Linked DNA regions of Homo sapiens. The protein of the gene in region 6 purifies or fractionates together with the protein of the main gene of each other region. This does not show direct contact. Each region holds a gene or a part of one and is shown on either strand. Other genes may lie near its edges.

Region 1 (3,500 bases), on a different chromosome or scaffold from region 6:
TGGGATTACAGGCTGCACCACCACACCCCGCTAATTTTGTGTTTTTAGTAGAGACGGGGTTTCTCCATGTTGGTCAGGCTGGTCTCAAACTCCCAACTTCAGGTGATCCACCTACCTTGGCCTCCCGAAGTGCCGCCTTTACAGGCATGAGCCACTGTGCCTGGCCTACCTTTTTAACCATTTTTAAGTGTACACTTCAGTGGCTTTAACTACATTCACAGTGTTGCACAACCATCACCACTATTCATTTCCAGAACTTTTCATCATCCCAAACAGAAACTCTGTACCCATTAAATACTAAGTCCCCATTCCCTGGTAGCCTCCATTCTACTTTGTCTCTATGAATTGCCTATTCTTGGGACTTCATACAAATAGAATCATAGCGTTTGTCTGTGTCTGGCTTATTTTCCTCAGCATACCTTGTCCAAGGCTCCCTCATGTCATAGCACGTACCAGAATTTATTCTTTTTTTTTTTTTGAGACGGAATCTCACTCTGTCGCACAGGCTGGAGTGCAGTGGCACGATCTCTGCTCACTGTAAGCTCCGCCCCCTGGGTTCACGCCATTCCCCTGCCTCAGCCTCCCGAGTAGCTGGGACTACAGGCGCCCTCCACCACGCCCGGCTAATTTTTTGTATTTTTAGTAGAGATGGGGTTTCACCGTGTTAGCCAGGGTGGTCTCGATCTCCTGACCTCGTGATCCGCCCGCCTCGGCCTCCCAAAGTGCTGGGATTACAGGCATGAGCCACTGCGCCTGGCTGCAGAATTTATTCTTTTTTTAAGGCCAAATAATATTCCATTGTATGTGTATACCTGGCTGGAGTTTTGTTGTTTTTTTTTTTTGAGATAAAGTCACCCAGGCTGGAGTGCAGTGGCACAATCTTGGCTCACTGCAGCCCCCGCCTCCCAGGTTCAAGTGATTCTCGTGCCTCAGCTCCCAAGTAACTGGGATTACAGGTGCCCACCACCACACCCAGCTAATTTTTGTGTTTTTAGTAGAGATGGGGTTTTTCCATGTTGCCCAGGCGGGTCTCGAACTCCTGGCCTCAAGTGTTCTGCCCACCTTGGCCTCCCAAAATGCTGAGATTACAAGCATGAACCACTGCGCCTGGCCTGGCTGGAGATGTTAATTTTATTTTTTTTATTATTATTTTTTGAGATGGAGTTTCGCTCCTGTTGCCGAGGCTGGAGTGCGATGGTGTGATCTCGGCTCACGGCAACCTCTGCCTCCTGGATTCTGGCAATTCTCCTGTCTCAGCCTCCTGAGTAGCTGGGATTATAGACGCTCGCCACCACACCCAGCTAATTTTTGTATTTTTAGTAGAGATGGGGTTTTATTATATTAGTTAGGCTGGTCTCGAACTCCTGACCTCAGGTGATCCGCCCACCTCAGCTTCCCAAAGTGCTGGGATTGCAGACGTGAGCCACCGCACCCGGCCTGGAATATTTTTAAATAGATTATCTTACATCATATCATTTCACTTGTAAAAAGAGTAATGCTTACTAATCAGGACTTAAAACCTCACACTACTATTAATTCCTTAATATTATGTAGTATCTAGTCTTTGTCCATATTTCTCTGATTATTTTTTAAAATGGCTTTTTTTTTTTTTGAGACGGAGTTTTGCTCTTGTTACCCAGGCGGGAGTGCAATGGCGCGATCTCGGCTCACCACAACCTCCGCCTCCCGGGTTCAAGCAATTCTCCTGCCTCAGCCTCCCTAGTAGCTGAGATTACAGGCATGCTCCACCATGCCCAGCTGATTTTGTATTTTAGACGGGGTTTCTCCATGTTGGTCAGGCTGGTCTCAAACTCCCGACCTCAGGTGATCCGCCCGCCTTGGCCTCCCAAAGTGCTGGGATTACAGGCATCAGCCACCACGCCTGGCCAAAAATGGCTTTTTACACTTGGTTTATTCTAATTAGGATCCAAACAAGATCCACACCACATTTGGTCAGAGTGCTGAAGCCTCTTTCCTTCTCTATGCTTTTGATAATTGAGGCATTTATCTCTGGTGTGTGTTATTGAAATCATTGCTTGTAACCAAGTATTTGGAAGTGATTTTCCAAGAAAATTACTATTCAAAGAACAACGCGCACCAGACATTAACCATGGGTTGTGAGCTCTGTCTGGTAAAGCAGTATGTTACAACGTGGTGAGCTGCTTATGGAGTGACAGCAGAATTTTAGTTTAATGAATTAGATTTTCTGAATTATTTTTTGGAAAGAATGGCAGCTTAATTATTTGAGTCTTTTTATTAGACATATGCATATGAACTGGAATTTTTTTAAAAAGAGTAATCTTAATTTCCCTTTTTTGTTCTTTTTGATCTATAGGCGCCTTGGTGCTGAATTGGGGAAGTCTGTTGTATATCAAGAGACCAATGGAGGTAAGTTAAAATTATTTCTTTTTTTTAAAATTATTTTTTATTTATTTAGTTTTTTTGAGACAGAGCCTCACTCTGTCGCCCAGGCTGGAGTGCAGTGGCATGATCTTGGCTCACTGCAACCTCTGCCTCCCAGGTTCAAGCAATTCTCCTGCCTCAGCCTGCTGAGTAGCTGGGATTACAGACGCCCGCCACCACACCCGGCTAATTTTTGTATTTTTAGTAGAGATGGGGTTTCACCCTGTTGGCCAGGCTGGTCTCAAACTCCTGACCTCAGGGGACCCTATTGCCTCGGCCTCCCAAAGTGCTAGGATTACAGGCATGACCACTGTGCCCAGCCTTTATTTATTTATTTATTTATTTATTTATTTTTATTAAGATGGGGTCTCACTATGTTGGCCAGGCTGGTCTTGAACTTCTGAGCTCAAGCAGTCTTCCCACCGCAGCTTCCCAAAGTGCTGGGATTACAGGCGTGAGCCACCGCACTCGGCTTCCACCACGTTATTTCTAAAATGCAAATATTTTTTCTTACTACTGCTTCCTTACTCCTACCCTGTAGGCTGGGGTCCAGTCTTTTTAGCAATCACATGGGGCCCTTTGGGAATCCAGATTCTACCCCTTTACCTGCCTCATCTTTGATCCACCCATTACCACATCTTGTGTGCTCTGACTTTGGAATACATCTTATATCTGACCCTTTCTCACAACCTCTGCTGCTCCCACTTAAGTCCAGCCTGCCGTTTGCTGCTTGCTAGACACCTTCCAAAACAGACGCCATGGCCTCCCCGTGGCCACTCCTGCCCTGCCACGGTTTTCTTCACACAGTAGCCAGCAGTCTTTTTAAAACAAGTAGATGAAACCCTTCCCAACCTTAAATCTTCCAGTGGCTTTCCTGTCACTGCTAGAATAAATTCCAGACTCTTCAGCGAGTAAGAAATGAAATCCAGAGTCCTGCAAGTCCTGGCCCCTTGGCTCCCTGACCTCCTGTCTCTCTCTTTCCCCTCACTCTGTCTGCTTTCTTTTTTTTTTTTTTTTTTTTTTTTTTTTGACGGAGTCTTGCTCTGTCACCCAGGCTGGAGTGCAGTGGCATGATCTTGGCTCACTGCAACCTCCAC
Region 2 (3,500 bases), on a different chromosome or scaffold from region 6:
GGAGTCTCCCTCTCTTGCCCAGGCTGGAGTGCAGTGGCGCCATCTCAGCTCACTGCAACCTCCGCCTTTCAGGTTCAAGCGATTTTCCTGCCTCAGCCTCCCAAGTAGCAAGGATTACAGGCGTGCACCAACACATCCGGCTAATTTTTGTAATTTTAGTAGAGACAGGATTTTACCATGTTGGTCAGCCTGGTCTTGAACTCCTAACCTCAAGTGATCCGCCCGCCTCGGCCTCCCAAAGTGCTGGGATTACAGGCATGAGCCACTGTTCCCGGCCCACTGTTCTTTACCCTTCCCTCTCTTTTATCCTCCATGATGAATTCTCAAAGCTACTATCTTAAATATCTTGCATCTTTGCCCACTACTCTTTCCTTAGACCAAGACATTTCTTTTTCTTTTCCTTTTTTTTTATTGAGACAGGGTCTCACTCTATCACCCAGGCTTGAGTGAAATAGTGCAAATCTTGGCCCACTGCGGCCTCGACCTCCCCAAGTAGCTGAGACTACAGGCATGCACCACCATGCTGGGCTAATTTTTGTTTTTTTGGTAGAGATGGGATTTTGCCCTGTTGCCCAGGCTGGTCTTGAACTCCTGAGCTAAAGCAATCTGCCCTCCTTGTCTTCCTAAAGTGCTGAGATTACAGATGTGAGCCACTGCACCTGGCCAGACGTTTCTTGTTCAAGTTACTGCAACAGCATCCTAACTGGTCTTCCAAGCTCTAGTTTTTGTTCACTCACCCCTTCCTCCCTTCATTGTCCATACAGAAGCCGTAATGATCTTTCCAAATAGCGTTTTGCTTTAGCACTTAAAAGCCTTATAGCTCTTCTTGGGTTAAAGTCTAAACTCAATCAGCATGGCTTGTGAAACAAGAAGGATGTGTAGCAAAATGGAAGGGAAGTTTTCCAGGCCTAGGAAAGAAGAGATTGTCAGAAGCTAGGGGAAGATTGTATAAGAATTAAAGATGTTGGAGTTCTAGATAGGAAATAGACAAATAAGAGTTTGGAGCAGTAAGCCAGGGCTGTATCTTAAAGGGACTTTTAAACCATGTTAATGAGTCTAGACATTACATTAGGGAGGGTAGAGATTCATCCTCTAAATTAGGTGCCCTACAGTGGCAACTGTTAACTAAATTACAACTACTTTGTTTAATGGTTACCTCCACTAGCTGGTGATGTGGCCCCTGTCCAACTCTTAAGTCTTGTCTCCTGCCATTCTTTAGCTGCAGCCCCCACCCCTTCCCCTGCCCAACAGCAATGTACATATACCCAGAGCTCCAGCTCCAACCAGACTGAAGTTCTGCAATCCACTTTGACCACCTTGTATTTATTCATCAACACTACCTACCCCTTTCTCTCCTTTGGCTAAATTTCGATGATTCTTCAGATTTCAACCTGTCACTTTCTTGTAGACTTCTTTTTCTAATGTCTAGACTAGTCCCATAGTCTGTATTTATTGCATTCTATTATTATGATGTCTTATTTAATATCAGCTCCCCTCAGACTCAGGTCTCTTGAGAGCAGGAATTATTATTTACTGGTACATCCCTTGGCACATGGATACACCGGGAAAATGTTGATACTGAGAGTGTTGTGGAAGTATGAGGGTTGATTTCTCTCTTTCGAAATTTTAAGTTCCTAAACATCTGTTATCTTTACTCTTTCTCTAAATCATCCTTTTGTGTACTTCTTAGGTTTTGTGACCAGCATCAAAATTGGATTCCTTTGTGCTCACTTCCTCACAATTTCTTACAACTGTTAGTGAAGAGAAAGGATTAATGGGGGCAGGGACAGGATTAAGAAATAGAGAGGGATGCTTCCAAATGTGCTAACTTCAATGGGATGGCATGCCTCCTCTTGAATATTAACTTGAAATCAAGAAACTCATCTGGCTGAATGTTCCCATTTTGCCTACAAAAAAGCAAATATCAGCAAAAATCGCATATTTTTTCCTGCAAGATAGTTTAGATACTATACTGTGAGTGTGTCTGTGAAAATACTAGTATAGTTACATTACTTTAAGTGGGTCTTAATTAATTTTAATTCTAGTTCAGTTCTGCTATGAGAGGCAGGTTAATAGTGGAAAGAGCACAGGATTTGATGTCAGAGGAGTTAGGATTTTATCTACCTCTTATATTTCCTAACTGCATGACCCTCAACCCTTTTGATTTCTGCTTTACTAATTTCTACAATTATTTATGTAATTAAAATTCTTCACAAGATCATGTGAATCAAATGTGATGGTATGAGAAATACATTGTAGAGTATATGGTTTTATACAGATGATTTAATTTTTATTAATATTACTTAATCACTGTATATTTACAGATTAATTGTTCTAGGTGATTTAGTCTTCAGCATTCAGGAAGTTTCTGAATTTTGGTCTATTTCCATTTTATTTCCACAGTACTGAACATTGGTAAAAAATTATATGAGGGTAAAACAAAAGAAGTCTACGAATTGTTAGACAGTCCAGGAAAAGTCCTCCTGCAGTCCAAGGACCAGATTACAGCAGGAAATGCAGCTAGAAAAAACCACCTGGAAGGAAAAGCTGCAATCTCAAATAAAATCACCAGTTGTATTTTTCAGTTATTACAGGAAGCAGGTAAGCAGCTCCCTCAAAGTCTCTTCTCTCACCTTCTCTGGTAAGCATGTCGATGTCTTTCATGTGAAGTTGGCATTAATATGAACAACTTGTTTGCAGATGTCTCAAAAGCTAAGTGAATTTAAATCAAACCAAGAACCCTTAAACTTCACTATAACACCTTATTTGGTTTGGGATTATTAGTATCATTGAATTAAAAGGAATCTTAACAAGTTTGCTGTAATCTTTATCTGGCACATGCACTCTCTGTGCAGCTTACCTCTCCAAGGCCATCTTCACTTTAAGGAATTTAACTATGAAGGAAACCCATTTTAATGTTAAGCAGTTCTAACATGAAGAACTGAAATTTACTCCCTGTAATTCTATACAAATGGTCTTTGTTCTGCCTCTGGGAGATAATACAGAATTTCAAATTCCTCTTCCACTTGAAAGCCCTGAAAAGTAGTTGAAGACAGCAACCAAACCTTCTCCTCCTGCCATTCCCCAAGTGAGATATTTGAACTAAAACCCCAGAGCGCCCTCCTGTTCAAAAACTGAATGAAGGCTCTATTTTCAATAGAGAAATAGATTCAAAAGACCAAATGAAGATCAGAACATTGTGTGGTGGGTATTTGAAGCAAAGGGAAGGAAATTAGGATAAAGGGGTTTTCTGCAGGGATTCAGTCAGTTGCTGGTTGGTCTGTAGTATATGAAATTTCAGCTAGGAAAAGATTTGAACTCTTGCCACACAGTGTAAATAGCCTCATTGCTTTGGATCATTCAACCTACGAAACCTTACCTATGAAATAAAAGCTTTTTCTTTATCATTCTTGCCAATTCTAATTTTATAATTTAATAACTTTCCTTACTTTTAATTCCAATATTCCCAGTTGCCCTTTCATTTCTTAGAGTTTCTGGTA
Region 3 (3,500 bases), about 51 Mb from region 6:
TAATAGCAGTAAGTGGGGCAAGAGCCACCCTGGGAGTGAGGGGTATTCGGGTAGGGTGGACCGGAGTCTCCTCATGGTGTCACTTGCCCTCCACGCAGAGGTGGCTGTGGGACAGGAACAAGCATTCTCTGTGAACACACGAGGGGCTGGCGGTCAGGGCCAACTGGATGTGCGGATGACTTCGCCCTCTCGCCGGCCCATCCCCTGCAAGCTGGAGCCAGGCGGTGGAGCGGAAGCCCAGGCTGTGCGCTACATGCCCCCGGAGGAGGGGCCCTACAAGGTGGATATCACCTACGATGGTCACCCGGTGCCTGGCAGCCCGTTTGCTGTGGAGGGTGTCCTGCCCCCTGATCCCTCCAAGGTGAGGAGATAGGAGCTGGTTGGGGCTGGGAGTTGGGGACTTGTTGGGAAGATAGATGAGTCATAGGGGGCAGAGGCCAGAGGGACTTATGTGCCTGGAGTGGGCACAGCCAAGGGTGTGGGGCTGAGGCCAGCCCCACCCCACCACCTGCCTTGGAGACAACTTAGCTATTAAGAGCCTGGCCTTGGAGTCACACCTGGGCTTGAATCCCAGGTCCACTAACTGGGGCAAATTGCTTCATCTCGCTGCCTCAATGTCATCACCTGGGATTGTTATAAGCACTCAGTCCACAGTAGCAGCCACAGTTGGAGGTGATGAGTTGGGTGGGGGCCATGAAGGCTGGGATGAGGAGGCCAGGTGCAGGGAACCCACAACCTGCCTCTTCCCCTAGGTCTGTGCTTATGGCCCGGGTCTCAAGGGTGGACTGGTAGGCACCCCCGCGCCATTCTCCATCGACACCAAGGGGGCTGGCACAGGTGGCCTGGGGCTGACCGTAGAGGGCCCCTGCGAGGCCAAGATCGAGTGCCAGGACAATGGTGATGGCTCATGTGCTGTCAGCTACCTGCCCACGGAGCCTGGCGAGTACACCATCAACATCCTGTTTGCTGAGGCCCACATCCCTGGCTCGCCCTTCAAAGCCACCATTCGGCCTGTGTTTGACCCGAGCAAGGTGCGGGCCAGTGGACCGGGCCTGGAGCGCGGCAAGGTCGGTGAGGCAGCCACCTTCACTGTGGACTGCTCAGAGGCAGGCGAGGCGGAGCTGACCATTGAGATCCTGTCGGATGCCGGGGTCAAGGCCGAGGTGCTGATCCACAACAACGCGGATGGCACCTACCACATCACCTACAGCCCTGCCTTCCCTGGCACCTACACCATTACCATCAAGTATGGCGGGCATCCCGTGCCCAAATTCCCCACCCGTGTCCATGTGCAGCCTGCGGTCGATACCAGTGGCGTCAAGGTCTCAGGGCCTGGTGTTGAGCCACACGGTGAGTGGACAGGAGGAGCCAAGAAAGGTCAAGTGGCAGGTGCAGGAGCTGGGTAGTCCGTGGGAGGGAGGGAAGAAGAGCTGAGAGCTGGAAGAGCAACCTGGGGTGAAGGGAGGGCTCTCGGAGCAGCCCCAGAGTCCTTACTGGCCCAGAAACCCCAGAGAAGGAGTGGAGGGGAAGACCGGGGGTGGAGATTGGCCTCTGCTCTTGTGGCAAAACTGCACCTGCCTCTGGGCGTTTTTCTGGAGAGATCTCTTCTTTCATGTGCTTAAGGGGTACCCTGATCCAAAAAGCTAAAACTCTGCTCTGGACGGGGGCACGGGGAAAGCTTTGGGGTAGAGGATGACAAGAGTCAGAAGACAGTAAGTGGGAATGGGCCATCTGCCAGGGGCCAGACCCTGGCTAGGCATGGGCCACGGCAGAGGGATGCAAGACCCAGGCCCACAGCCTGGTGGGTGACTCAAGTGAACAGAGAATGTCACTACATGGAGAAGGGAGTGAAGGCAGAGGCTGGAGCTCACAGAGGTGCAGGGGAGGGTGTGGGGCCCAGGCTCCGATTAGAGGAGCAGCCTGGGAGTTGGGGAGTGGGAGAGGAGGGGGAGAGGAGGGTGAGAGGAGGGGAAGAGGAGGGGAAGAGGAGAGGGAGAGGAGAGGGAAAGGAGGGGGAGAGGAGAGGGAGCATCTGTGTGAAGGCTGCCCCCACCCCTGCTGAACACGCCACCCCTGGGCTCCAGGTGTCCTGCGGGAGGTGACCACTGAGTTCACTGTGGATGCAAGATCCCTAACAGCCACAGGCGGCAACCACGTGACGGCTCGTGTGCTCAACCCCTCGGGGGCCAAGACAGACACCTATGTGACAGACAATGGGGACGGCACCTACCGAGTGCAGTACACCGCCTACGAGGAGGGTGAGGGCCGGTGGGCCAGGCTAGTGGGCAGGGCTGGGCAAGTGGGCAGGGCCGGGATCTGATGATATTGCCCTCGGGGCAGGAGGGGTGGTGGGGGCGCACACTCCCTGATTGATGCCCCTGTGGCTGGCTTCCAGGCGTGCATCTGGTGGAGGTCCTGTATGATGAGGTCGCTGTGCCCAAGAGCCCCTTCCGAGTGGGCGTGACCGAGGGCTGTGATCCCACCCGCGTCCGAGCCTTCGGGCCAGGCCTGGAGGGTGGCTTGGTCAACAAGGCCAACCGATTCACTGTGGAGACCAGGTATCCTCCCCCTTTGCTAGCCTAAATCTGTGACCACCCTTTCCCAGCCCCTGGCCCTCCTCGCTCATCCCTCTGCCTGGGCCTCAGCCCCACCCCATCCTCTCTCAGGGGTGAGGCAGGAGCAGACCCCCTCCAGGACCCCAGATTGGCCCCTGTAGCTCGTTTCTCCTCAGCTGGGTCCCCAGCGGCCTGCCCTCTTTCCTCCCTGTCCCCCCATTCAGCTACTCCCTCATCCTCACTCACTGGTCTTATGAAGCTGATGGGGGGATGTTATCTCTCAGGGGAGCGGGCACCGGGGGCCTTGGCCTAGCCATCGAGGGTCCCTCGGAAGCCAAGATGTCCTGCAAGGACAACAAGGATGGTAGCTGCACCGTGGAGTACATCCCCTTCACTCCTGGAGACTATGACGTCAACATCACCTTCGGGGGGCGGCCCATCCCAGGTGTGCAGAGAGAGTGGTCGGGGTCTCAGGGAAGACAAGGGAGGGTGCAGGATGCTCGCCCCACAAGGGGGAAACTGGAAGGAAGTTGGGTAAGAATGTTCATAGAGAGGACAGCCTAGAGTGGGTTGGGGCCGGAGCCCGGCCAGAGGGAGGACGTGGAGGAGGCAGGCAATGAGGGTTGATGTGACAGCCCCCCTAGTCAATCACAGGAACACACTCTGGCCTCCTAGCCCCTTGTCTGGAGCTCAAGACCTTGGCTTTGCAGGTCCACCACTCACTGTGTGTCCAGAAACTCAGACACAGTCCACTCCTCTTGGCGGCTCAGGCCAGCCTTGGGCCTTCTTGCACGCATCGTCTGCAGAACTCCCCTGCCCTCTGCAGACCCAGCTGCCCGGGCAGGTCATGTCTTCAAATATTGTATGACTTGGGACTGCTGAAATTGGAAATTTTTTCCCTTATCTAATTTCCCATCTTTTTATTATTTCAGCCACAGTGTCAGA
Region 4 (3,500 bases), on a different chromosome or scaffold from region 6:
TATATTTATTTCAGAGACAATGGTTGATTACTAAAAATAATCACAATTGAAATAGTTTTGCTAAGGTAATATTGGAGAAGAATGTCATTCTTTTTTTCATACATATGATGGACCAGAGTGACTAAGACATTACATGCTTTGCCTTAGTTCTCAAACATGTCAGCCTGATTAAAAAGGGGCAGTATACTCTCAGGACTAAAAGGATGTGCCCTTACATTTAGAAAAAAAAAGGCACACGTTTCTGTTCAAACAGTTGAGTGGTAAAAAGATGTGTTGCTTGTGGAAATAGTAATTGGTGTGGAAAGCTTCAATCTGAATGATGTAAATACAATAAAGGTTTTTGTTAGCTGCAATTAAAATGCACAGTGGAGGAGAAAAGACTATTAAGATCGTATTCTGTTGTTTCTGTGCAGTTGTATTGACTCTGGGTGAGTTGTATAGACAATATACCTGATTGTATCTTTGGGCACATCACAAATGAGGGTTTGTGAAAGTAGAATGGAAAATTTGTTTCAAGTTGCTTTAGGCATTGGTGATTTTCTGTCCAACCTCCTGTCATTCTTGTCTAAAGTATAAGGAAAAAAATATGGCAGAAGCTTTTGATCTGGAATACACTTCATGTCCAAAAGCTACACGAAGGAGCAACTGTGTGTGTGTGTGTATGTGTGTGTGTATAAGTTGAAACACTGAATAATTCCCCAGAGATTAATTTCTGAATTTAGCTGACACGTTGTATACAGTAATTCCCCTTTATCTATGGTTTTGCTTTCCATGGTTTCAAGTCTACTGTGGATTGAAAATACGAAGATATGTTGAGATAGAGAAAGTGTAAACATTCATGTAACTTTTATTACAGCATATTGTTATAGTTGTTCTATTATTGTTGTTAGTCTTACTGTACTTTATGTATAAATTAAACTTTATTATAAGTATATATGTGTAGGAAAAAACGTAGTGTATGTGTAGCGTTTGTTACTATCTGCTTTCAAGCATCCACTGGGGTCATGGAATGTATCACCCTCACATAAGGCGGGGACTGCTGTACTCCTTAAGGCATTTTTCTTTGAGGCTAGTCTAGTAAGACATAATATCATATTTCCGTTAATATCTAACTGCATTTCTTGGTCAAGATCTTGCCTTGATGTTCTCTAAAAGAAAGGCGCACAGTCTTAGGGGCAAAACTTGTTTTGCAGTTTTTATGAAATCAGTCATGTTCAGAGTGAGAATATAGATGTGGGAAAGGATGCAACGTTCATGTGCTCCCAGCTGTATTTCTTCATGTTTTCCTTTTTCTATAAAATATTTAAGATGGCTTAATGAATGGTAAGAGAATATAATTTTGGAGAATTTTAGGCTATATTCAGTGGTATTTTGGTAAATGTGTAACAACTGGCTTTTGGAGGTGGAGGATTCCCTGATTTAAAGTGCTTGCCCATTTGTTTGGTGTAAATACTTCTACCATGGCTGATTTCAAGTTTCCAATGTGAAATTACTGAACATGGACTTGGCAGAAAAAGTTAACTTTGGGGAGCCAGTATGAGCTGGGTCTAGTGCACCACTGGTTGTATGTTATGATTCATGCTATCAAATTCTTTAATTTTAAATAGAAACACCGTCTATACAATAGATTATAATAGTCTAATTGTAACAACTGATTGAGATATGATAGCTATAATACAAATGCCAAACAGATACCAACCCAAAATTGAAATGTATCCAAAGGGGCAGTGGTTTATCTCCTAAATCTCATTAAATATAGTGTATACAATGTAATCTTATATATATATCATTGAATATATTTGTATGTTGATTCAATAATTTATGTATACAAAATCTAAACACAAAGCATTTATTTTAAAAAGGTAAAAATGAAACTTAAAATTGTTTGTATTTGTGGTATATAAGAATGTCTTCTCTTTACTTTCAGAGGAGTATGGAATGTCCCATATATGGCTAATGTGTACTTAATTAAAGGAAAGACACTCCGATCAGAGATGAATGAAAGGAACTATTTTGTTCGTGATAAACTGGATCCTGATATGGCTCTTTGCCGAAATGCTAGAGAAATGGTAAGATATGCAGTGATGGCTTGCTTGAATGTTCTTATAAGATGGCTTGCTTTACCAGTTGGTGTGTCACTGTGTTTTGATGCCCTTTGTCTTGCTAATTTGTAAGTACTAGCCAATTTTTTTGGTTCTGTGTTAAAAAATTTGGGAGTAATTTTGGAGATAATTTAACATTTACTTATAGAAATGGTATGAAAAATGTTAGTTTTTGTGCTCGGGCTAATTCATAGGCAACCGAGTTGGATTTCAGTAATAAAGATGTATTTGTTACAAATCAGCTTTGCTCTTTTAAGAATACATCTTTAATTTGAAATTCTATAGTGAAAACTTGACCTAATTAAAATTAATTAGATAAGCTTCGATGAAACAATATTTCCAGATTTAAGAATATTTTTGTTCTAAAATTAATGTCCACATTTTCTCTAACTAGGTAAAATTTTAAAATTATTATTAACTTCACATTCTTAGAAAGCAGGATTATTACCACCAAACTAGTAGAAGTGTTGAGATACATAGTGTATTTACTCTAAATAAAATACTAATGATACCTTGCTGCACTACAAATGTACTTTTATTATAAAACTTAAAATGACTAGAAAATAATTTTTCAAAATGCATAAACATGGCTTAGAATATATTGATATGATTTTTGGTTTTAGAAATGATGGGGCTATTTTATTTCCGATTTCCAAATTTATATAAGCAATTGTGATTTGATGAAAAGTCAGAAAAGTTGGCAAGTATTTTTTTCTTAGTTTAACAAAGCATGTATTGTTTGAATATGTTTGTTTTCTCTACAAACCTGTGTGCATTATTATTGAATATCCTCAGTACTTGTGATAGTATTTTGTGCTCATGTTTGGCTAATTTGACTCAACAGCGCATCATGGAATGGCCTCTCTTACTCATTTTTTCCGTTGTCTTATGTGTCTAATGAAAGTTCTGCTAAGGAATGAGCTTAGACTTATGTTTGACCCCACCACACCTCCCAAAAAGAAAAGAAAAGAAGGGCTGAAAGAGCTGGAGATGTTTCTTTGTGTGTGCTATAAGCTTTGCTTGTTCTGCATGTTGTCTATGAAGGACATTTCAGAATGTTAGCTTTTGATCAACAGCTGCTATTATTTTTATTTACCAAAGAATACCTGAGAGAGCGGGTGTACAGGTCAACTTACCCAATGCTTCTCTTCATTTTAGACTTTACAAAGGGAAAAAGACTCCCCTACTCCGGAAACATTCCAAATGCTCAGCCCCCCAAAGGTGTTATTTTTACTTATTTTATTTATTTTTGTTTATTTAATATTTGATATAGTATATTGCCTAGTAGTAAAGTTTCTTTAAGGGCCTTATTTGCATTTAGCTTGGTAAAATGTTGATTTTCATCAGTCATCTGTGTGTTTGCGTGTTTTGTGTGACTTGGGCATGGGTCTTGTGTGA
Region 5 (3,500 bases), on a different chromosome or scaffold from region 6:
ATTTCCCACCAAGATTCAATAGTCATTTGCATTGTCTCATATTTGGTTTCTCTATATTAATATATAATTCTTGTGAAAGAATTTGAAAATAAGTTCCAGACATCATGATTCTTTACCACTAAATATATCAGCCACATCTCCTAAAAATAAGAGATTTCCCCACATGATCCTCTAATGCATTAGTGTACTCAGGAAAAGCAATAATTTCCTAATATCACCTAATATGTGGCCCATAATGAAATTTCCTTCTCTCCAATTTTAGCTATTTTCTTTTTAAAAAAATTTCCCTCCAAATCAGGGTCAAACTAAGTTTCTCTCATTACACTGGAAAGAGTTTAGATTTTATTTTAGATGTGAGGGAAGTCATTGGAGGGCACTGAGCAGAAAGACACGTTCTAAGTTTATTTTTTTTTTTGGAGACAGAGTCTCGCTCTGTCGCCCAGGGTGGAGTGCAGTGCCGTGATCTTGGCTCACTGCAGCCTCCACCTCTCAGGTTGAAGGGATTTTCGTGCCTCATCCTCCCGAGTAGTTGGGATTATAGGCACATGCCACCACGCCTGGCTAATTTTTGTATTTTTTTTTTTTTTAGTAGAGACGGGGTTTTGCCATGCTGGCCAGGCCGGCCTTGAACTCCTGGCCTCAAGTGATCCACCCACCACGGCCTCTCAAAGTGCTGGGATTACAGGTATGAGCCACTGCGCCTGGCGCCTGGTCTCTCTCTCTTTTTTTTCTTTTCCCTAAGTTTCAAATATCACTCCAACTACCAAGAGAACACTATTGTGAGGTAAGAGTTGAGGCAGGAAGCCCAATAGGGAGACTGAGGCAGTGGTCAGGAGATGAGAGTGCTGTGGCACAGGTTTGCAGCGCTGGAGATGGTGCCCAGAGGTCAGATTTCAGGTCTATTTAGGAGGAGGTGCTGACAAGAATGGATGGCTGTGGGTGAAGAAGAGAGGAATCCAGGGTGATCCAAACTGGGCCTGAACAATGTACTGAGATGGGGAAGAGACTGTCAATGCTTGGACCTGACCGTGTTGTTGAAAATGCACTTAAATACACGAGTCAGCATCCCAGGGGAGAGAGAGGTCCTACTGGAGATGTGGGTTTGGGAGGCATTAGCTTTTGGGTAAATTTTAACTTATGGGAATGGGCCGGACGCAGTGGCTCATGCCTGTAAACCCAGCACTTTGGGACGCCAAGGCAGGTGGATCACTTGAGGTCAGGAGTTTGAAACCAGCCAGGCCAACATGGTGAAGTCCTGTCTCTACTAAAAATACAAAAAAATTAGCTGGGCATGGTGGCAGGCACCTATAATCCCAGGAACTCGGGTGGCTGAGGCAGGAGAATCGCTTGAACCTGGGAAGTGGAGGTTGCAGTGAGCCGAGATTGCGCCACTGCACTCTAGCCTGGGTGACAGAGCAAGACTGTGACTCAAAAAAAAAAAAAAAAAAAGAAAAAAGAAAAGAAAAAAAAATGGGGTGGATAAGATCACCGAGGGATAGAGCATAGTTAGAGAAAAGACAACCAGGAAGAGAGCCCTGGGGGCACTCCACATTTAGAGATCTGGCAGATGAAGAACCAACCAAGGAGACTAGAAAGAAGTGCTAGTAAGGCAGGACAGCGTGAAATATCAAAGCCTAGAACAGAAAGTGCCTGGAGCAGAGGGGAATGTTCAATCATGCCAAATGCTACTGATAGGCACAGGTGAGGGGAGAGAGGGAACACAAGCTTTGTAAGATGGCGACCTTAATAAAGCAATTTCAGTAGAAAAGAACAGAGAAATAGGGCAGTAGATGGAATGAGGACATGGGATCAGGAGAGGATTTTGGCTTTTTTATTTTTTTAAAAGATGGGTGATAGTAAAACATGATTGCATGCCTTATGGCAAATAAGCTAGCAGAGTGGAGAAATTAATGAGGAGAGAGGCTCTAATTGTAGGAATGTAGTCCTAGGGGAAGCAAGAGGGCCCAGGATCTTCAGCATAAATGGAAAGGTTGCCCTTAGACAGGCAAAGAAGCAGAGTATGTGGATGTAGATGCAGGGTGGCTAAAAGGTTTGGTGGTGGGGCCAAGCCTAGGGTCTCACGCCTGTAATCCCAGCACTTTGGGAGGCCAAGGCGCGAGGATCGCTGAATCTCAGGAGTTGGAGACCAGACAGGGCAACATAGTCAGACCTCATCTCTACTAAAATTCAAAAAAACACTGGCCAGGCAGGGTGGTCATGCCTGTAGTCCTAGCTACTCAGGGGGCTGCGGTGGGAGGATTGCTTGAGCCCGGGAGGTTGAGGCTGCAGTGAGTCCTGATTGTGCCACTGCACTCCAGAGAACTCCAGGCTGGCTGACAGAGCAAGACCCTGTCTCAAAAAAAAAAAAAAAAAAAAAAAAAGAAAAGGAAAGGAAAAAAAGGGGGGGATTTGGTGGTTGAACGATAAGGCAGTTTTCTGTTGATTGCATCTATTTTCCCATGACCTATGAGGTAAAGTCATCAAGGGAGGGAAGGGAACCAAGTTGAGTCAAGATGATAAAAAGTAATTATCCTCAAAAGTAGGAAAGTTCATGACTAAGAAGAAAATGGGCCAGGTGTGGTGGCACGTGCCTGTAATCCCAGCTACTTAGGAGGCTGAGGTGGGAGGATGTCTTGAACCTGAGAGGTTGAGGCTGCAGTGAGGCCTGATTGTGCCACTGCAGCCTAGGCAACAGAGCGAGACCTTATCTCAAAAAAAAAAAAAAAAAAAAACCAAAAGGAGGAGGATCAAATGCCCATATTAAGGTTTAGCGTTGCATATTTAAAATAAGTTCGCTCAACAAAGTTAGGTGTTTTCTCCAACTAGAGTTAGCTGCAGAGGTATAGGCAAAGATTAAGCACATAGCTGGGTTTAATCAGGCTTGGGTTTTGCCAGGTGAGTATAGGGAGGTGCAAGGAAGTGGAAATAGTGCCAGTGTTTGTAATTTAAGCTCGCAAGAAAGGAAGTGAGGGCATGAGTGACAACAGGACCAGTCGCCCCACTAACATTAATAACTGGCTCCTTCAAATTGCTATACCATTAAGAGAAGTCTCTCAAAAGAGGGAATATTATCTCCTATATATTTATTATTATTATTATTATTATTATTATTTTTAGACGGAGTTTCGCTCTTGTTGCCCAGGCTGGAGTGCAATGGTGTGATCTTGGCTCACTGCAGCGTCTGCCTCCCTGGGTTCAAGCAATTCTCCTCTCCTGCCTCAGCCTCCCGAGTAGCTGGGATTACAGGTGCCCCCTGCCACGCCTGGCTAAATTTTGTATTTTTAGTATAGATGGGGTTTTGCCATGCTGGCCAGTCTGGTCTCAAACTCCTGACCTCAGGTGAGACACCTGCCTTGGCCTCCCAAATGCTGGGATTACAGGTGCAAGCCACCATGCCCGGCCATAAATTTATTTTTAATAATATCATACTAGTAAAATTATCAAGATTTGATTAAAATAAAACATTACAATTTAAATAAATTTTACTAGTACAAATATAC
Region 6 (3,500 bases):
GTATGGTTTGCTTAGATTCCGAGTATTGCTCTTTCTGTTAAACACCTGCAATAACCATTCTCAAAACATTTGACATCAGTACTCCTTTACATTCTTCAAAGTTATTGAGGATCCCAAAGTTTTTGTTTCTGGGGGTTGTATCTTTCAGTATATACTATATTTGAAATTAAAACTGAGAAATTTTTAAAAAACATGAATACATAAGCATATATTGTATTGGCTGTTAAAGAATAAGGCACGTAACATTTTAGTATTATTCTGAGAATTATTTAAAGCTCATAGACTCCCTCAAAAGGGTTGAGGGGAGGGGGTACCCAGACCGTATATTGAGAACCACTAATCTGTAAGAAGACTAGTGAGTTTGGCATTGGACAAATTCATCTCTCCATTCTTTTTCAGTTTAATGTTCTGTTAGTCTTCTGATTACAATGAATACTACTCTAACCTACTCTAACATGGTGCTTACGGTATATTGCTCATCCATTTAATAGTGTAGATTAGTTAAATAGTATATATAGTGTTATGTTTACAGTACATGCTCTGGAAGTAGAACTGCCTGGTTTAGAGCCCACACTTGTCACTTCTTAGGAAAGTTTGGGCAAGTTATTTTATCTGTATATCTCAGTTATAAAATGAGGATGGTATTAACAGTACTTTCCTCATGGAAATTAAATTGTTACATGTGAAGCCCTTAGGTATTTGGCATGTGTTTAACAGTCAATAAGTGTTGGCTATTATTTATTTGGGTTTTTTTAAAAGCAGTGCTAAATGCCACACAAATTTCTTAGAAATGGCAGTTTAAATGAGCTGTGCAACTTTAAACTTTGCAAAGTATTTTCATAATTGTTGACTTTCTGTTTTTCTTGAAGGAATCTCGTAGGCTGTATCAGTTTCATTATGTGAACTGGCCAGACCATGATGTTCCTTCATCATTTGATTCTATTCTGGACATGATAAGCTTAATGAGGAAATATCAAGAACATGAAGATGTTCCTATTTGTATTCATTGCAGGTACAAAAGAATTTCCCAAGTTTATAAATACATTATTTAAGTTTGATGTTACACAAGGTTTTATTTCTGCATTAATATGTTAGTAATCTTGAATTTCTCCTAGCCTTGATACAATGTTTGGGACTAGGGCCTTGTAAGTTGATGTGGTCTCATTTGGTTGACAGACCGTTTAGAGTATTGTTGCATTAAAACACAGGATCATCTATTTGAAAATAGTATTCACATGGTGGGAAGCTATAGAACATACTCTTTTTACTGTTCACTGATTAGAGCATATAATCTCAGATCCTCATCATACTCTACTTTCTAAAGTCAGTATGGTAGTATTTTCTTTTAATCAATTTCCCTGAAACAATGACCAAGCAATTTTCATTCCTGATAAACACTGACATGAGATTTTTAAAAACAGGATATTGCTCTGATGCCCAGGTTGGAGTGCAGTGGCACAATCATAGCTTACTGTAAACTCAAACTCCTGGCCTGACGTGATCCTTCTGCCTCAGCTTCCCAAGTAGCTAGGACTACAGGCATGTGCTACCACACTGAACTAATTTTTTTTAATTAAAAAAAATTTTTTTTAAGAGACCAAGTCTTGCTCTGTTGCCCAGGCTGATCCGAACTCCTGTCCTCAAGTGATTCTCCCACTTTGCTCTCCCAGAGTCTTGGGCTTACAGGCGTGAGCCACTACGCCTGGCAACATGACTTTCTTTTTTTAATATATGTAAGATGTACATACGTAGGTCTTATTGATCTAAGATATCATCAATTCTAAGACACACCATTATTATATATATTAACAGTAAAAAAATCACTGCCAATTATAAGGGGACAATGTCATTTGTAAGAAGCCATTGGTGGTAAGATACATACCAATCTCAGAGCTGTTACATTGAGATGAAAAAGTGTGTTTTAGTTTGATGAAAAACTAAATGCTGTTTTTATTCTTGGGGAACATCAGTTTCCACGTTTGCACCACTTCCTGTCATATCATGAAATTTTATAATTTATAGCTACTGAAAAATTTAAAGCCGGAAGCAAGCATTCTTGTAGTAAAGTAATAAAAACTATTGATACACATTTACTAGACATTTTTATTATGTTTTATAGTAGATTACTTCATTATAAGGATTACATAAAATTCAATGATTACTGACCTAGTTAAGCTACCTCTGAATGTGAAAGGACAAGTATAGGTGCACCTACTTTAAATTGCACAATATAAATCTTTTCATTTATTCAAATAATATTTGAAGTTCAGTTAGGTTTTGCAAAATTACTCGTTTGGATGTGTTAAGAAATCATGTAAACTCTTCCTTTGACTTTGGGGGAATGAACATGAGATTTGTTTATTCTTGGGGGGCAGTTAATTTTGTATTCTAGAAGGGGGGTTAATGTATAATATATTTTAGCTAAGAGAAATCAGTTTAAGATAACCAACTTTTCTTAATCTAACATTTTGGCTTATTTCTGTCATCTGGTCATTCTCATACAAATAATACAAAGCTAAATATACATAATACATATGCACATATATGTATATGTATACATTATATGTAATACATAAAACAAAGCTAAATTTGTATTATGGATTTAGGAGTGTAATGGAAAATACCCCTTTAAGAGGAAAAGCACAAAACTGAATTAGTCAAGAAAATAATAAATGTTTGCAATAAGTGTCATGACCGGGTATAGTGGCTCAGTGCTTTGGGAGGCCGAGGCAGGATGATTGCTTGAGCCCAGAACTTTGAGGCTGCAGTAGACACCAATTACACTACTGCACTCCAGCCTGGGTGACATAGTAGACCCTATCTTTTAAAAAAAAAAAAAGAATATAGGTATCATTATAATATGGGTGATACAGGATATTTTGAAACCTAATTTTTGGAATTTCATTATATAGGTATGGGTTTCTACATAGTAGAAGCTACTTGAATCCTTAGACAGTTTTTCTACTCTGAATTTTTAGTTTACATTAGATTCTTCTAAAGGCCTTACAGTCATAGTACTTACTTCATAAGACTGCTATCAATTTATTCCTCTAAGGGACTTGTTATCTGCATTCACATTTGTTATAAAAAGTAAATGAGATTTTTCAAACTTAAGAGATTTATTTTTTATTATTTACATAGTTAAAATATTTTTTCAGTGGAGTTGAAGCATTGAAGATAGTTTTCTTATTCACTTGGTTTGACCGTAATGCTCATAATTAACGAAGTAAAAGGGCTACTTTTTATTCATGGGCCAGGAAAGTAACTTGCTGGTGGAGATGTGGGAATCAGTTAACAACTTGGTTCATTAAAACTATTTTTTTCTGTGGTTAATTCAGTGGTTAGTTGACCATTTAATTAAGTAGGATTGACCAGTTAAAAATAAACAATATGTTTAATTATAGAATTAAAAGATAAAGAAATTGCTTTCACTTTGACTTCTTATAAGTTAGTTAAAATAATTTCCTGTTCAATCATAAATCCATTTGTATAGGAAGGCT
Region 7 (3,500 bases), on a different chromosome or scaffold from region 6:
GCAGAAAAAGCTTGTGACTCCTACTCTGTTTGTTGAAGTTGACCCCCAAGAACTGAAGATCAAAGGGACTTCTCTTCTTGAAAAACTCACCCCAACCACAACTGATGCCCCAAGGCTGAACCACATGCAATCACAATCAACAAACATTTCGATGAACAAATCCTCTAGGAATAAAGTCTGCCTGAGAAAGGGCCCAGCACCTCAGCGCTCAGGGAGTGATGGCGGCAAGTGAGAAGGAGCCAGCCATGGCAGCATCTCAAGAACCCGGCTCTCAAAGGCGGGCCAGGGCTGGACGCCCATCTGCGGCCCTCAGAACGTCTGATCCCCTGGGAGAGAAGGGGGCACCAGCTGGTCAGGACGCTATTCCAAAAAAAGCTTCCAGCTTAGCTTGCCTAACTAGAAAGGAACTGGGAGAAGAGCAGGACTCCACAGAGAATAGTGGAGAGAGAACTCATGTCCAAGAAACCATTCTTACTAGGTATCATGTGATATTTTTCCTAACTTAGCTAATTTTACTCTTAAAAATATTTATCTGGGCATTTCTCCAGAGAGGATATACAAAAGGCCAATAAGCATGTGAAAAGACACTCAACATCGCTCATCATTAGGATGCAAATCAAACTCACAAGGAGATGCCACCTCACACTCACTAGGGTGGCTACTGTACAAAAAAGAAAAGTAGTGGTGTTGGTGAGGATGTCAAGAAACTGAAACCCTTGTGCATCATTAGTGGGAATGCAAGATGGTACAAGCACTGTGAAAAATAGTGCTTTAAGTAAAATAATATTGAAACATAACGTGTTACTAAGCTAACATGAACATTTCTACCTAACACTCCTCAAAATCATATTTTTGTGGCTTCATTAACCAGAATTCAATAGTTCAGCCACCAGCAGTTAACAGGCACAACTCCCAGCAAAAAATTAAAATAAATTTTTCCCTCAAATGAAAAATAGTATTACCACATGACCCAGCAATTCTACAGCTGGGCATATACCCAAAAGAACTGAAAGCAGAGACTCGAACAGATATGTGTACACCCCTGTTCATAGCAGCAGGGGGCAAAGTGACCCCAATGCCCATGGATGGATGGATGAGTAAATAAAATGTAGCCAATCCATATGTATAACAGAATATTATTCAGCCTTAGACAGGAAGGAAATTCTGATACATACTACAACATGGATAAACCTTGAGGACATCAGGCTAAGTGAAATAAACTAGTCACAAAGGGACAGATACTATATGATCCCACTCACATGAGACACCTAGAGTAGTTAAATTCATAGAAACTGAAAGCAGAACGACGGCTGCCAGGAGCTGGAGCAGGGGAGAATGGAGAGTTATTGTTAATAGGTACAGAGCTGCAGTCTGGGAAGATTTTTTAAAAAGCCCTGGAGATGCATGGTGGTGACAGTTGCAAAACAATGTGAATGTACTTAATACCACTGGGCCATAGACTTTAAAATAAAATCATACATTTTATTGAAATTTTATTCACGTTTTATAACCAAAAATGTGTTGTTTTTGAAAAGCATTTAACACATTTGAAACACATTTCAAAATGTAATAAAAACCATTTCAGCAAATACTTTAATATATATTACTAAGCTAAAATGAGAATTTCTACCTAACACTCATCTGAATCATATTTTTGTGCCTCCAATAACCAGAGTTTGATAGTTCAGCCATCAGCAGTTAGTTGGCACATCTCCCAGCAAAAACACTGTAATTTTGTTGACTATTTAATAAAGACATAAGAAGGGTGATTTCCTCATTTGTTATTACTGCAAAGGCTCTTGAAGAAATTTATACCAGCATCAGATTTATCAATTTGATTTTATCTTTTAGTAAATTCTCTCTCCTGGTTGTTCTTGCTACTGTAATTACCCTTGCATTACCAGTCAACCTCTATCACCACCCCCTTAATGTTCTGAAAATCCAGAACTGTTGTGCCACATGCTCTGTGATTAAATCACCAGAATCCCTGGGATTACTGGCAATGATGGCAGCAGCGGCCAGTCTGGAGCAGCCGCTGTGAGGACACCAGCTGCAGAGGGCAAAGTGCAGCCAGGGCTGCGCACTCCATGGTGCCCGCGGGGGCCAGAAACAGGCAGGAGCCCCAACTTCTACAGAGTTATCAGGGCAGGAGCCCCATGCTCCCAGACACAGCTGCAGCCGTGCAGCCACAGCTCTGGACCAGGGCATCCCTGTGCTCTTGGGGGCCGGCGAAGGCCCACTGCCCCACCAGCAGGCTCAAGAAGTGCCTGCTCCTGCTCCCTGGCCTCTCCCGGCTCCCGGCGCCTGATGCAGTGTGGAGCAAAGTTGTAGCCAAGCCCAGGTACTGTTGCCACCCAGCCGGGTATGCATGCACACAGGGTGGTTCTGACATGCCAGCGCCCCTGGTAACCCCAACCTCCAGCTCGGCCCCCTCTGGACTTTGGATGCCAACAAGCACAGGAGGGAGGCCAGGGGGCTGAGAGCAGCTTAACAGGGGCCTGCAGGCACCTCTTGGCACAAATACCTTGGGCGCCATGGATGACATGTTGACAGCTGCGGGAGACAGGTTCCTAGGTGGGAAGGGACAGACAGGTCCCTGGTGAAACCCCAGCTTCAAGCCAGGGATGGCCTGAAGCCTGGGAGCCGCTGGGCTGCCAGTTCTAGGTGGAGTCTGCAGCCTGGGATGAAAACTTACGGTGCTTTTTCCAGGCCCACTCATGGCTGCGCATGGGCCAATCAGCACACTTCCTCCCTTCTGAGCCCAGAAAAACTCTGGACTCAGCCAGACTCAGAAAGACATGGGGACTACCAGCTGTTGGAAGGAGCAACCCTCTGGGGGTCTCCTCCACTAGTCAGGATGACCTGCCTGTGGAAAGGAGCTATGCACTACAGGTCTCCTCTCCAGTGAGAGCTGGACACTCATTACGTCGACCTGCCTGCAGAAAAAGGCTACTCACTTCAGGTCTCCTGAGAACTGTTCTGTTGCTCAATGAAGTTCCCCTGTACCTTGCTCACCCTCCAGTTGTCTCCATACCTCATTCCTCTTGGATGTGGGACAAGAACTTGGGACCCAAGGAATGGCCAGACTGAAAGAGCTGTAACACAAACAGGGGTGATCCTCCCCCTCCCCTGCTCACTACATTGTGGGCGACGAGAAGGAGAGAAGAGCTGCGGCCCTTCGGGGAGCCCAGACCTAGGGGCTCCCTAAGCCAGGGCTGTGACATCCTCTTTGGGGCTCTGCGGTTCCTGGTGTCTCCAAGTTTCCGGGTGCCACCGTGTTCCCAGTGCCCACAATGGAAGCGACCTGCAGTATGCCTGGTCCAGCCACAGCCTTGCACGGAGCCAGTGCCTGTGCCTGGAGCTGCCTGCCCCACCACAGTCGGCATGCCCGGCTGTGCACAGTGGCCGGATGACCCTGAACTCACTCACGAACTCCTCGCCACTCCGTGCCTGGCTCGCCCTTGGCAGGCATGAGATCCAGGCCAGTAGCACAAGCCGAG

The links.
Region 1: the proteins of PTPN12 (region 6) and PRPSAP1 purify together in Homo sapiens (affinity purification with mass spectrometry; one large-scale study listed by BioGRID and IntAct). This does not show direct contact.
Region 2: the proteins of PTPN12 (region 6) and PAICS purify together in Homo sapiens (affinity purification with mass spectrometry, with the first as the bait; one large-scale study listed by BioGRID). This does not show direct contact.
Region 3: the proteins of PTPN12 (region 6) and FLNC purify together in Homo sapiens (affinity purification with mass spectrometry, with the first as the bait; one large-scale study listed by BioGRID). This does not show direct contact.
Region 4: the proteins of PTPN12 (region 6) and PLOD2 fractionate together in Homo sapiens (co-fractionation; one large-scale study listed by BioGRID). This does not show direct contact.
Region 5: the proteins of PTPN12 (region 6) and NUSAP1 fractionate together in Homo sapiens (co-fractionation; one large-scale study listed by BioGRID). This does not show direct contact.
Region 7: the proteins of PTPN12 (region 6) and ARHGAP10 purify together in Homo sapiens (affinity purification with mass spectrometry, with the first as the bait; one large-scale study listed by BioGRID). This does not show direct contact.

Annotation. Positions count from the first base shown.
Region 1 is NC_000017.11:76,347,417-76,350,916, reverse strand, and holds part of PRPSAP1 (phosphoribosyl pyrophosphate synthase-associated protein 1), read left to right. Parts: intron 1-2,335; coding exon 2,336-2,388; intron 2,389-3,500. UniProt on the Homo sapiens protein: Seems to play a negative regulatory role in 5-phosphoribose 1-diphosphate synthesis.
Region 2 is NC_000004.12:56,439,260-56,442,759, forward strand, and holds part of PAICS (bifunctional phosphoribosylaminoimidazole carboxylase/phosphoribosylaminoimidazole succinocarboxamide synthetase), read left to right. Parts: intron 1-2,403; coding exon 2,404-2,601; intron 2,602-3,500. UniProt on the Homo sapiens protein: Bifunctional phosphoribosylaminoimidazole carboxylase and phosphoribosylaminoimidazole succinocarboxamide synthetase catalyzing two reactions of the de novo purine biosynthetic pathway.
Region 3 is NC_000007.14:128,843,906-128,847,405, forward strand, and holds part of FLNC (filamin-C), read left to right. Parts: coding exon 1-8; intron 9-98; coding exon 99-361; intron 362-752; coding exon 753-1,350; intron 1,351-2,084; coding exon 2,085-2,258; intron 2,259-2,395; coding exon 2,396-2,558; intron 2,559-2,839; coding exon 2,840-3,000; intron 3,001-3,500.
Region 4 is NC_000003.12:146,077,685-146,081,184, reverse strand, and holds part of PLOD2 (procollagen-lysine,2-oxoglutarate 5-dioxygenase 2 isoform 1 precursor), read left to right. Parts: intron 1-1,927; coding exon 1,928-2,069; intron 2,070-3,260; coding exon 3,261-3,323; intron 3,324-3,500. UniProt on the Homo sapiens protein: Forms hydroxylysine residues in -Xaa-Lys-Gly- sequences in collagens. These hydroxylysines serve as sites of attachment for carbohydrate units and are essential for the stability of the intermolecular collagen cross-links.
Region 5 is NC_000015.10:41,335,881-41,339,380, reverse strand, and holds part of NUSAP1 (nucleolar and spindle-associated protein 1), read right to left. Parts: intron 1-3,500. UniProt on the Homo sapiens protein: Microtubule-associated protein with the capacity to bundle and stabilize microtubules. May associate with chromosomes and promote the organization of mitotic spindle microtubules around them.
Region 6 is NC_000007.14:77,599,795-77,603,294, forward strand, and holds part of PTPN12 (tyrosine-protein phosphatase non-receptor type 12), read left to right. Parts: intron 1-869; coding exon 870-1,012; intron 1,013-3,500. UniProt on the Homo sapiens protein: Dephosphorylates a range of proteins, and thereby regulates cellular signaling cascades. Dephosphorylates cellular tyrosine kinases, such as ERBB2 and PTK2B/PYK2, and thereby regulates signaling via ERBB2 and PTK2B/PYK2.
Region 7 is NC_000004.12:147,861,088-147,864,587, reverse strand, and holds part of ARHGAP10 (rho GTPase-activating protein 10), read right to left. Parts: intron 1-3,500. UniProt on the Homo sapiens protein: GTPase-activating protein that catalyzes the conversion of active GTP-bound Rho GTPases to their inactive GDP-bound form, thus suppressing various Rho GTPase-mediated cellular processes. Also converts Cdc42 to an inactive GDP-bound state.